Homo sapiens: one gene and its partners. The protein of the gene in region 2 binds, or shares a complex with, the protein of the main gene of each other region. Each region holds a gene or a part of one and is shown on either strand. Other genes may lie near its edges. The genes, in order: MED25, CCNC and MED16.

Evidence for each region.
Region 1: CCNC (region 2) and MED25 share a complex: the UniProt entries of both Homo sapiens proteins name them as parts of the mediator complex.
Region 3: CCNC (region 2) and MED16 share a complex: the UniProt entries of both Homo sapiens proteins name them as parts of the mediator complex.

The regions. Positions count from the first base shown.
Region 1 is NC_000019.10:49,831,713-49,835,362, forward strand, and holds part of MED25 (mediator of RNA polymerase II transcription subunit 25), read left to right. Parts: intron 1-223; coding exon 224-309; exon of another isoform or gene 310-387; coding exon 388-445; intron 446-595; coding exon 596-703; intron 704-3,273; coding exon 3,274-3,465; intron 3,466-3,650. UniProt on the Homo sapiens protein: Component of the Mediator complex, a coactivator involved in the regulated transcription of nearly all RNA polymerase II-dependent genes.
Region 2 is NC_000006.12:99,558,549-99,562,198, forward strand, and holds part of CCNC (cyclin-C), read right to left. Parts: intron 3,134-3,650; coding exon 3,049-3,133; intron 2,889-3,048; coding exon 2,819-2,888; intron 1-2,818. UniProt on the Homo sapiens protein: Component of the Mediator complex, a coactivator involved in regulated gene transcription of nearly all RNA polymerase II-dependent genes.
Region 3 is NC_000019.10:872,632-876,281, forward strand, and holds part of MED16 (mediator of RNA polymerase II transcription subunit 16), read right to left. Parts: intron 2,824-3,650; coding exon 2,613-2,823; intron 952-2,612; coding exon 818-951; intron 1-817. UniProt on the Homo sapiens protein: Component of the Mediator complex, a coactivator involved in the regulated transcription of nearly all RNA polymerase II-dependent genes.

The DNA of each region.
Region 1 (3,650 bases), on a different chromosome or scaffold from region 2:
TGTATCATCTGGGGCACAGTGGATGGTGGGATTTAGGGGCCGGGCACGTAGCTGTAACATTTGAGGAACTGAAGGCTTGCTGGTCTGGAGGAGGGGCCTGGGGCTCATGGGACTTAAACTGGGGAACATCCTGAGCTTTGGGGCTACCAGGGTAGGACATGAGGGCTCAAGGGGACTGAGGCTTATGGCCCTTTTTACTGACATGCTCTTTTTTCCCCCTCAGAAACCCAAACCTGCCTCAGTGGATGCCAACACCAAGCTGACGCGGTCACTGCCCTGCCAGGTCTACGTGAATCATGGCGAGAACCTGTAGGTGACAGTCAGGGGCGGGGTGTGGTGGGGCTGGGGCTGGCCCCCTCCTCACACCTCTCCTGGCATCGCCCCCAGGAAGACGGAGCAGTGGCCCCAGAAGCTGATCATGCAGCTCATCCCCCAGCAGCTGCTGGTGAGTGGCGGTGGAGGGCCAGCCCTGCTGCCGGGCAGTCCTCACCCTGCTGTCTCTTTCCTGTTCCCTGCCCCACCCCCACTCCCTGCCTCATGTCCCCGCCTCACTTGCCCACACCAGCATGCCAGCCGACTTCTGTGTCTCCCGCAGACCACCCTGGGCCCTTTGTTCCGGAACTCAAGGATGGTCCAGTTCCATTTCACCAACAAGGACCTGGAGTCTCTCAAAGGCCTCTACCGCATCATGGGCAACGGCTTCGTGAGTCCAGGGCATGGGGGGCCGAGGGGTGTTGACTCTTGTCCTGCTTTCTGCTGACCTTTGACGGGAATCCCAGAGTGCCTGGGCCCACGGAAGCCGTTTTTGATGGTTGGGTGCACTTCATGCCCTTAGGTTCCTCGCCTTTCTTCTAGAGCCGTGACTTTTATTATAATCATCGTATGCACCAGATTTGAGGGATATTCCACATTAAAAATGTGAGCTGGATGTGACAGGATCAGTTAGGAGGAAGCTGTTGATTCTGGCATGGCTTTATGGGATGTGTTCATTTCCTGTGGCTGTGGTAACACATTACCACAAGCAGAGGGGCTTAAAACAACAGAAACGTGTTCTATCCCAGTTCTGGAGGCCAGAAGCCCAAGGTCAGGGTGTCAGCAGGGCCACGCTCTCTCTAGAGGCTGGAGGGAAGGCCTCTTCGTTGCCTCTTCCGGCCGGTAACCCCAGGCTTCAGGTGGCATCGCTCCAGGGTCTTCCTCCATCCCGCAGCTGTCTTCCCTCTGTGTGTGTCTCCACATGGCATTCTCTCTGTATCTTTGTGTCTGTGCTTATAAGGACATCAGTAATTTTGGATTAGGCCCCATTTTCCTGACCTCATCTTACTACAATTGCAAAGACCCTCTTTCCAGATAGAGTCACCTTCACAGGTGCTGGGGACTGGAACCTCAGCTTAGCTTTCTGGTTTTGTTTTTTGAGACAGAGTTTCACTGTTGTCAGCCAGGCTGGAGTGCAGTGGTGCAATCTTGGCTCACAGCAACTTCCGTCTCCTGGGTTCAAGCGATTCTCCTGCCTCAGCCTCCCAAGTAGCTGGGATTACAGGCATGTGCCACTATGCCCAGCTAATTTCTGTATTTTTTAGTAGAGACAGGGTTTCACCATGTTGGCCAGGTTGGTCTCGAACTTCTGACCTCAAGTGATCTGCCTGCCTCGGCCTCCCAAAGTGCTAGGATTACCGGTGTGAGCCACCGCGCCCAGCCTCAGCATAGCTTTCTGGGAGTCACAGTTCACACTTTGTAACTCGGGGAAGGAGCAGATCAGTTACTTCCGTGCACCAGGCACTCCTGCAGGAAAGAGAACCTTAGGGGGATCACCTCACGAGACCCTCACAGAACCTTGTGAAGAAGGCATTCCTGAGAGTTAGTACTTCCGGCTGCAAATCACGTAGTTTCCCAAACACATAGATAATTGGGGGCACTCGGAAAAAATGTTCTCTTATGATTCTGTGGGTCACCTGGGCTCAGTGGGCCATCTCGCTTGGCGACTCTCACGGGGTTGCCATCAGATGGCAGCTGAGACTCTGGTCATCTGAAACCTTTACTGGGCTGGATGTTCAAAACAGCTCCTCACACAGCCCTGGCTGTTGGCTGGGGCTTGGCTAGGACCGGCCATCCCAGTGTCTGCACATGGCCTGTCCACGTGGCCACACTGTGGCAGCTGGGTTCTGAGAGGGCAGGCGTTGTAGGAGCAGGCATTTATATTTTGCACAGGACAGGACATCTAGAGGGGGCCAGCTATTGGGATTGGTTTCATAGGTCTGTGACATCAGGGACAGGGCCCTGTGGTTCTCTTGGCCTCTCCTTTATAGTCACAAGGTAGCTCTCATGGCTCCACGCATCCTGTGTGCTTTCATGAAGGAGGGGAAGGGGGCTGTGTGTTTCCCTTTCTTCAAGACAGCAGAAACTTTCTCAGATTCCAGAGCAGGCATTCCTTTCACCTCCTATCCCGGACCTAGGCCACTGGGCAGCCCCTAGTTGATGGGAGGCTGCTGGGAGCAGGTATCCGTGACTGTCTGGGGCTGGGACATGTTACAGCCCCAGACAGCATTGGGAATGCAGGGGAGGAGGACACTTGGATATGGAATAGGCAGCTAGCAGGGTCTGTCTCAGGCAGGAAACCGAGGCTCAGAGAAGTCAATTCACTTGGCCAAGGTCAGCCTCGCCTCCCTCAGGAGCCCCTGCCCTGAATGCTCCATGTGTTACCCCCCTGATGACCAGTGATGTTTCCTGGGTGCTTCCTGTGGGCTGAGCCTCAGGCAGGGCTCTTGCTGTGGATCAGACATCGCATAGTCACAGCGACCCTGTGATGTGGGAGCACTCCCCGTGGTGTACACTGGCCGGTGCTGAGGGCTGGAGGATCTCTTGGATACCCGGGGTCCGACCCACCGTTGATCACAGGCCTGTGGGTACCACGCTGTGCATCTAGGCCGCTCTCCCGGCCGTGACCCTCAGCCGCCCTCTGAGGAGGCCGCCGTGGCATTTTATGCCCAAGAAACTGGGTCCATGAGGAGCAGGTGGTGGCTGAAGGTTGAAGAGCTGGGCTCCAGCACTTTCTCTCCGCTTTCCCTCTCAGTGGGCAGCTGGAACCCTAGCTTGCCCTGAGCGCCTCAGTTTCTGTCTCCAGAGCAACCCATAGCACACCTGTTCTCCTTAACCTTCTATAGCAGAAACCTCACCTCACCTTGCCTGTGGGGCCTCTAGAGCCTTCTGGAATGGGGAGGGGGTCAGGGCTGCCTCTTTCAGGGCCTGAATGGTTCTGAAGAGCTGTTGTCCACCCAGGCGGGCTGCGTGCACTTCCCCCACACGGCGCCCTGTGAGGTGCGCGTGCTCATGCTCCTGTACTCGTCCAAGAAGAAGATCTTCATGGGCCTCATCCCCTACGACCAGAGCGGCTTCGTCAACGGCATCCGGCAGGTCATCACCAACCACAAGCAGGTCCAGCAGCAGAAGCTGGAGCAGCAGCAGCGAGGAGTGAGTGTTGACAGTCCCCAAACCAGCACTCCGACCCCCTCCTGCCCGGGCCCCACATGGCCCCCTGGGGTCTCCAGGACCAAGATGCCCACCCTTCTCCCAATATGTGGTGCCTCCAAGCTAAGTCCCACTCAGATTTTCTTGCAGTCTCTCTCCTTTTTCAGCATCCACATCAAAGCCCTGAC
Region 2 (3,650 bases):
CTAAAGAAAGAAAAGCAGGTACATGTTAACCCAATGAATCTAAGGGTATCTGAACTCTATTCAAAACAGGATTTCCTTGCTCCTGTTTACAATCTGTTCACCTTCTAACTACTTGAGGTGTGAAGTACTTACACTCCTAAATGTACAGGCTGATTACCCCTTATCTGACATGCTTAGGATCAGAGATTTTTCTGATTTAGGAATATTTTGCATTACACTGGTTGAGCATCCCTAATCTAAAAATCTGAAATGCAAAATGTTCCAATGAGCATTCCTTTGAATGTCATGTTGGCCCTCAAAACGTTTCAAATTTTGGAGCATTTAGGATTTTCAGATTACGGATATTCTGCCTGTATTACCTCTCCCCCAAATTGCTACAACTTAAGACATATTTTAAAATAATTTTATAATTTAATAACAATAAAAGGTACCAAATTAGAAACCAAGCCTTAAGGTTACAGTGTCAGTTTTTCCATTTAAATTAGTTTCCAAGAAGATTGTTTACATTCTATACTTAATTGCAAGAATATTAAGTATGTTTCCTATTCAATTCAACCTGTATTAACAGATACTTCATGCCATTCTATGGTAAAACAGTTGAATTTGTGAATAAGATAAACCTTAATTAATCACCAAAAGAACTAAAAAAAAAAAAAAACCATATAAATAGTTACTATCCTTTTTAGAACAGGGAGACAGGAATTACGTAAGACTTCCAAAGTCAGTTCCCATTTCCTCTTTCAACTGAACAACCACCATTGTGAAAATACTAAAATTTATTATGATCCACCTTATATATACTGTTTCATTTATTGCCTCGTAAGATTTCTAAAGCCTTCACTTCATTTTAAAATAAAAAAATCAAGAGTTGGTTTCTTATCCAACAAAAGGAGCTAAACTAAAAATCTATTTAAATACCTTCAGCCTACATCCTTATCCTGTGTAGGGGAAATGTATGTGTACTAATATATTTGTTTTACATTTAAACCTCCAACTATAATAACTGAAAAGAAAAAGTAAAAGCCTGAGACATGTTCTTAAATGAGCTTTCCATACAATTTCCATAAAACTAGAGAAAATACAGAAAGATTTGGTCACAGAGATAAAAAAAAAATAATAATAATGCTACGACCAAATCTGAAAGACTACATTCTCTTTCTCAGGAATAATTCTTTTTTTTTTTTTTTTTGAGATGCAATCTTGCTCTGTCACCCAGGCTGGAGTACAGTGGCATAGTCTTGGCTCACTGCAACCTCCACCTCATGGGTTCAAGCAATTCTCATGCTTCGGCCTCCCTAGTAGCTGGGATTACAGGCATCTGCCACCACATCCGGCTAATTTTTGTATTTTTAGTAGAGACGGGGTTTTGCCATGTTGGTTAGGCTGGTCTCAAACTCCTGACCTCAGGTGATCCACCCGCCTGAGCCTCCCAAAGTGCTGGGATTACAGGTGTGAGCCACTACACCCGGCCTAGGAATAATTCTTTATCCAAAACTCAAAGGGAAAACTTTCATTCAGTAAATCACATCACAGAGTTCTACTCAGTAAATCACATAACAATATTTAACAAGTAAGATAGATTAAAATCCTCAAATTAATCTACAAGATTAAATGTTTATAAAGATTTTTTGTCTTGGTCCTCCATACTGCCTGTGCTTAAGAGACTTTAAATTATTACATGGTAATATTTAAATAAAATCAAATATTACATAGAATTATTAGAATTAGAAAACTCAATCCATAATAAGGACCTTAACTGATTCTGCCTTCTTAAACTACCACTCACAATTAGAAAACATAAACTTCTAGAAAGCTTGTCTTAATATTATTTCTAACAGAGTCAATTGTCATTATTTAGGTAACAGTTGGGAAAGATGTCATGGATAACCTTAAATCATGGCTAAAACAAAACTAAATCAAAGTGGGTGCCAAAAGGAATGTAAACTTACTAGGTAAAAATCACATTCAATATTCAAGAATACAACTCTAAGAATAGAACTCTAAGACATTATCCAAAAATAGAAACATAATGCAAAGATTTCACACCACCAAAGACTACATTATTTATGAAAAACAGCCAATATCTGCTATTATTTTCTGGACTTTAGCTGAGCTCTTTCAAAAATACTACAAAGGTAAAACAGTTGAACAGAAATTCAGTCTCTGCCGCAAGTTCCTATCTATCTTCTCTCCCTTACCTAATTTCTCTACGCTCACAACCTCAACTTTTACTTGTTAGACTCTATATAGCTATAGCTTCCCCTAATCCTTGCCTTCCTTCTGGCTTGGTAGGCAGCCAATCATCAGGATGATGGGAGGGAAGACAGGAGAAGATAAGCATATGGGTGAGAAGCATAAGGGACATTCTCAGGTTATGGTAGGCAAGCTGTGGTACTTACTGAATACTACTCAGTGCCAAACAATAGATGTCTCAAAGGCAGCAGAGGAAAGTAGTTAAGAACACAGGATTGGTAACGAGACTCCCATGGTTCAAACACGGGCTCTCACACTTACTAGCTATATCATCTTAAGCAAGTTCTTCATCTCTGTCTCAGTTTCCTCATTTATAAAATGGGAATACTACTACTATGTATTCCAGTTTGTTACAAAGATTAAGTCAGTTGGTACACAGTAAGTGCTGTATGTGTCTGTTAAGTGAATATATAAGGATATGTATATATTTCTTTGATTTTGTACAATTTTAGTATTTTGCATAAATTACCATTTATTAATTTTACATAGGCCATGTGAAAACTGGGGCAGATTAACCAACATACATTGACTACACTTTGATGAAGAACAGAAAATTGTTTTATACCTCTACTTTGGATGCCAAAAACACACATGTAGGAGCCATTAATACAGGATCTATACTTTTCAGAGAATACCTAAAATATGATAAAACAAAGTTAAATATCATTCATACAGAAAACACACTGGGAAAAAAATCAAGATAACTCTATGGTAGACACATGATTCATTTACACTGTGCTAAGGTTCATCAACATTAGATAAGAGTTCAAATAAATAAAATAAAAACAATCCTACCTGGCATAGAATCTCTTGAAATATACCGTAGCAGTGGCAATAACTTGTTGTCTTAATTTAAGATGTTCACCTAATGCTTGGATAACTAAAAGGCAAATAATGAAATTTTAAATGTATCTTCTGGTATCATTATAATATTAACATTGAACAGTAACTTCCATGTGGTTAAATCATAATTATGTTCATTTTTAACAAAGGAAAAAACCTACACATGCTCTATGTGAGTCACAGTGGTCTAATTCTAGGATTTGCAAATGTGTTAAGAAATATATAGGTATGCATAAACAACAACAAAACAACAACAAAACAGAAATTGCCCCACAGGAAAAAATTATTCATCCATTAAGGAAGTTGAATAAATATTTCCCCTCTATCTTCTAAATATTTTTAATGCTTTTCATAGTATCTTTATAATAAATATAAAAAGAAAATATTAGACACCTATGAAACTTGTTAATACTACCACTTTTTTTGTTGTTTTGAGACAGAGTCTCGTTCTGTCGCCCAGGCTGGAATGCAGTAGCACGATCTTGGCTCACTGTAATCTCCACCTCCCAGGTTCAAGTGATTCTTGTGCCTCACCACGCCCAGCTAATTTTTGT
Region 3 (3,650 bases), on a different chromosome or scaffold from region 2:
GGCAGGACAGAGTGTACCGGCGGGGGGGTGGGGGCGAGGTTGGAGCCCTGGTCAGGGGCGCACAAGCCGCAGAACTGAAGGTGGAGGTGTGGATGGAGACTTGATTTCAAGGCCGCCCACCCCAGGCGCAGGGAGCTGGGGAGGGTAAGGGGTGGGGGCAGCAGCAGCAGAAGCAAGGCGAACCGGCCTTCGTGTAGGGGTGGGGCTGAGAAGGAGCAGGGCCTGGGAGGCGGGGCTTTGAGAATGGGCAGGAAGGGTGTGGCCAAGGAAAGGCTTCTTACAGCAGAGGCTTCATGGAGAGGAGGGCTCCGAGGTGGGGGAGGGCTCCGAGGTGGGGCAGGGCTCCGAGGTGGGGGAGGGCTCCGAGGTGGGGGAGGGCTCCGAGGTGGGGCAGGGCTCCGAGGTGGGGCAGGGCTCCGAGGTGGGGCAGGGCTCCGAGGTGGGGGAGGGCTCCGAGGTGGGGGAGGGCTCCGAGGTGGGGCAGGGCTCCGAGATGGGGCAGGGCTCCGAGGTGGGGCAGGGCTAGGAAGTGGGGCAGGGCTAGGAAGTGGGGCAGGGCTAGGAAGTGGGGGTTTAAGAAGAGACAGACTCAGGAAGTGGGACTCCAAGTAGGGGTGGGACTCCAACCAGGGGCGGGGCTGAGGTGGGACTCCAAGCAGGGGCGGGACTCCAAGTAGGGGCGGGACTCCAAGTAGGGGCGGGACTCCAACTAGGGGCGGGGCTGAGGTGGTTTTGAGGGGCAGGGGCAGGGAAGCGGGGTCCTGATGAGATGGGGGCCCAGGTGGGGGGCGGGGCCTTAGGGGAGAGCATGGCGCACCTGGTTGGGTAGGCTGGCCAGCAGGTACAGCACGAAGTCGCCCACCCACTGCAAGAGCTGCTGCAGCGCCTGCAGTGTGTTCATGTCCAGCACAAATTCCTCCGTCTTGAGGTTGATCATGACCTTGTCAATGTCTACAAGGAGACGTGGGTCGGGTCAGCTCGGGCCTCTTGTACACACAGGGTGACCTAACTGCACCCCTCGGTCCTTCGACCTGCACTGAGTGCCCACCCAGTACCAGGACACAAGGGGACCCACACCGGGAACGAGAAGGGGGCGATGGCGTTGCCGGACGGAGAGGAACTGGGAGCCCACTGCCTGCCCCCCCCCGGGGGCCGCTGTGCTCAGCACCAACCAGCTTCTCTCGGCCTGCAGGCCTTGGCGTGGGCAGGTCCCCATGCCAGGGCCACCAGTGCTCAGGCCCGGCCTGCTGGTGCACATCTGCCCCCTGCTCCGAGGTGAACTCTGTGAACACAGGGGCATGTCCACAGCGTGCAGCTGCAGCCACCCCCGGCTGGCAGCTGGCGGCGGTTACACACCCAACAGATGCCTCTCGGATGGTGACTAGGGTGGTCCCACAGAACTAACCATGACTGTGCACACGGCTCCCAGCTACCAGGAGTGCCACGTGTCCACACTCAACCGGGTACTCCAGACAAACGATAACCCTAAATTTTTTTTTTGAGACAGAGTCTCACTCTGTCGCCCAGGCTGGAGTGCAGTGGGGTGATCTCAGCTCACTGCAAGCTCCGCCTCCCGGGTTCACGCCATTCTCCTGCCTCAGCCTCCCGAGTAGCTGGGACTACAGGCGCCCGCCACCACGCCCGGCTGATTTTTGTATTTTTAGTAGAGACGGGGTTTCACCGTGTTAGCCAGGATGATCTCGATCTCCTGACCTCGTGATCAGCCCGCGTTGGCCTCCCAAAGTGCTGGGATTACACACGAGTCGCCACGCCCAGCAACCCTAATTTTTAAAAGAAACAGCCTGCCAGGCACAGTGGCTCACGCCTGTAATCCCAGCGCTTTGGGAGGCAGAGGCGAGTAGGACACCACGTGCTGGGTGAGCCTGGGCAAGCTGCTTAGCCTTTCTGCCTCAGTCCCCTTACGGCAAAACGGAAGGAGGAGCAGACCTGCCTGCACAGGACCCGGGTGCCGGGTGTCGGCCTGGGAGCGTCTCAGCCCCCAGGAGTAGAGAGAGGTGAAAGGATCGCTTGAGCTCAGGTGGTCAAGACCAGCCTGGGCAACACAGTGAGACCCTGTTGCTACAAAAAATTAAAAACCGGGTGTGGTGGCACGTGTCTGTAATCCCAGCTACTCCAGAGGCTGAGGCGAGATTGCTTGAGCCCAGAAGGCAGAGGCTGCGCTGAGCTGGGACTGCGTCACCGTGCTGCAACCTGGATGACACAGTGAGACCGTCTCTAAAAGCCTGGGTGTGGTGTAATCCCAGCCTTTAGGCTATATCCCAGCACTTTAGGAGGCCGAGGCGGGCGGATCATTTGAGGTCAAGAGTTCGAGACCAGCCTGGCCAACATGGTGAAACCCCGTCTCTACTAAAAATACAAAAAATCAGCCGGGCGTGGTGGCACGTGCCTGTAATCCCAGCTACTTGGGAGGCTGAGGCAGGAGAATCACTTGAACCAGAGAGGCGGAGGCTGCAGTGAGCTGAGATCGCACCACTGCACTCCAGCCTGGGCAACAGAGTAAGACCCTATCTCAAAAGAGTAAAAAAAATAAATAAAAATAAAATAAATAGATGAAAGAAACCTCGAGGCCCCGGGCGTGGAAAAGGACCCACCGACGTCGGTGATCTTGGTGCAGATCTCGGTCAGCCGGTCGCCGGGGCTCTTGTCAGGCGTGTTGAGAAAGTGGGGGCGCAGCAGCGACTTCAGGGTGGAGCTGATGGCGATGAGGAAGAGCTTGGTGTGGTAGTCGCACACGCGGGTCACCGTGCAGGGCGACAGCTTGCAGAGCGAGGCCTTCATGGCCAGGATCCGGGTGGAGAGGACCTGAGGGCAGGAAGCCAGGTCACCCCAAGGGGCCGGAGCAGAGGCGCCCGCCAAGGCTCCAGCTGAGGAGAAGAGCAGTTCGACTCTGACACCAGGCGCTCGGTCAGCTGGGCAAGCTGCTTCGCCTCTGCACCTCAGCAACCTCATGGCAAAACAGGTGCGGAAGACCAGGCGCACAGGACCAGGTGCTGGGTTCTCAGCTGGGAGCGGCTCTGCCTCTGGTGGGGGCCCCTGGTGATGTCTGGAGATATTTTTAGTTGTCACCACTGGGGGTGCCCCTGCCAAGTAACGGGTGGAGGCTGGGGAGGCTGCTCAACAGGACACCCCCATCCCAGAGGCTGCTCCAGCCCCCGATGTCTGTGGTGCCTACGGGGAGACCCTGGTCTAGAGAGAATGAATGAATGAGCTGAAGCATTTTGGGAGGCTGAGGCTGGAGGATTCCTGGAGGCTGGGAGTTGGAGAGCCTGTGCAACGTAGGACACCCCATCTCTACAAAAAATAGAAACAACTAAAAACAAAAATGAAACGCTTGGCACACAGCGACGGCCCAAGGAGGGAGAGGGCGAGGTCTCGCCATCACTAGCGCTGTCACTGGCTACGGATCCCAGCCACGCTGGGGTTTAGCCTCGCAGCCCCCGCCTGGGTCTCACGCGTTTCTCGGCAGGCTGTGCCGTGAATGGGATTTTTTTTTTCCCATTTTATCTTCGTATTGGTTTCTGATGGCACAGAGGAAAACAAGTGAAGCTCAGAGGGCTGGTCCCACGTGCAGCTGCCGGCTGAGCTCGTTAGATCTGAGGTCCTTCGAGGACACTCTGGGATTGCAGGCA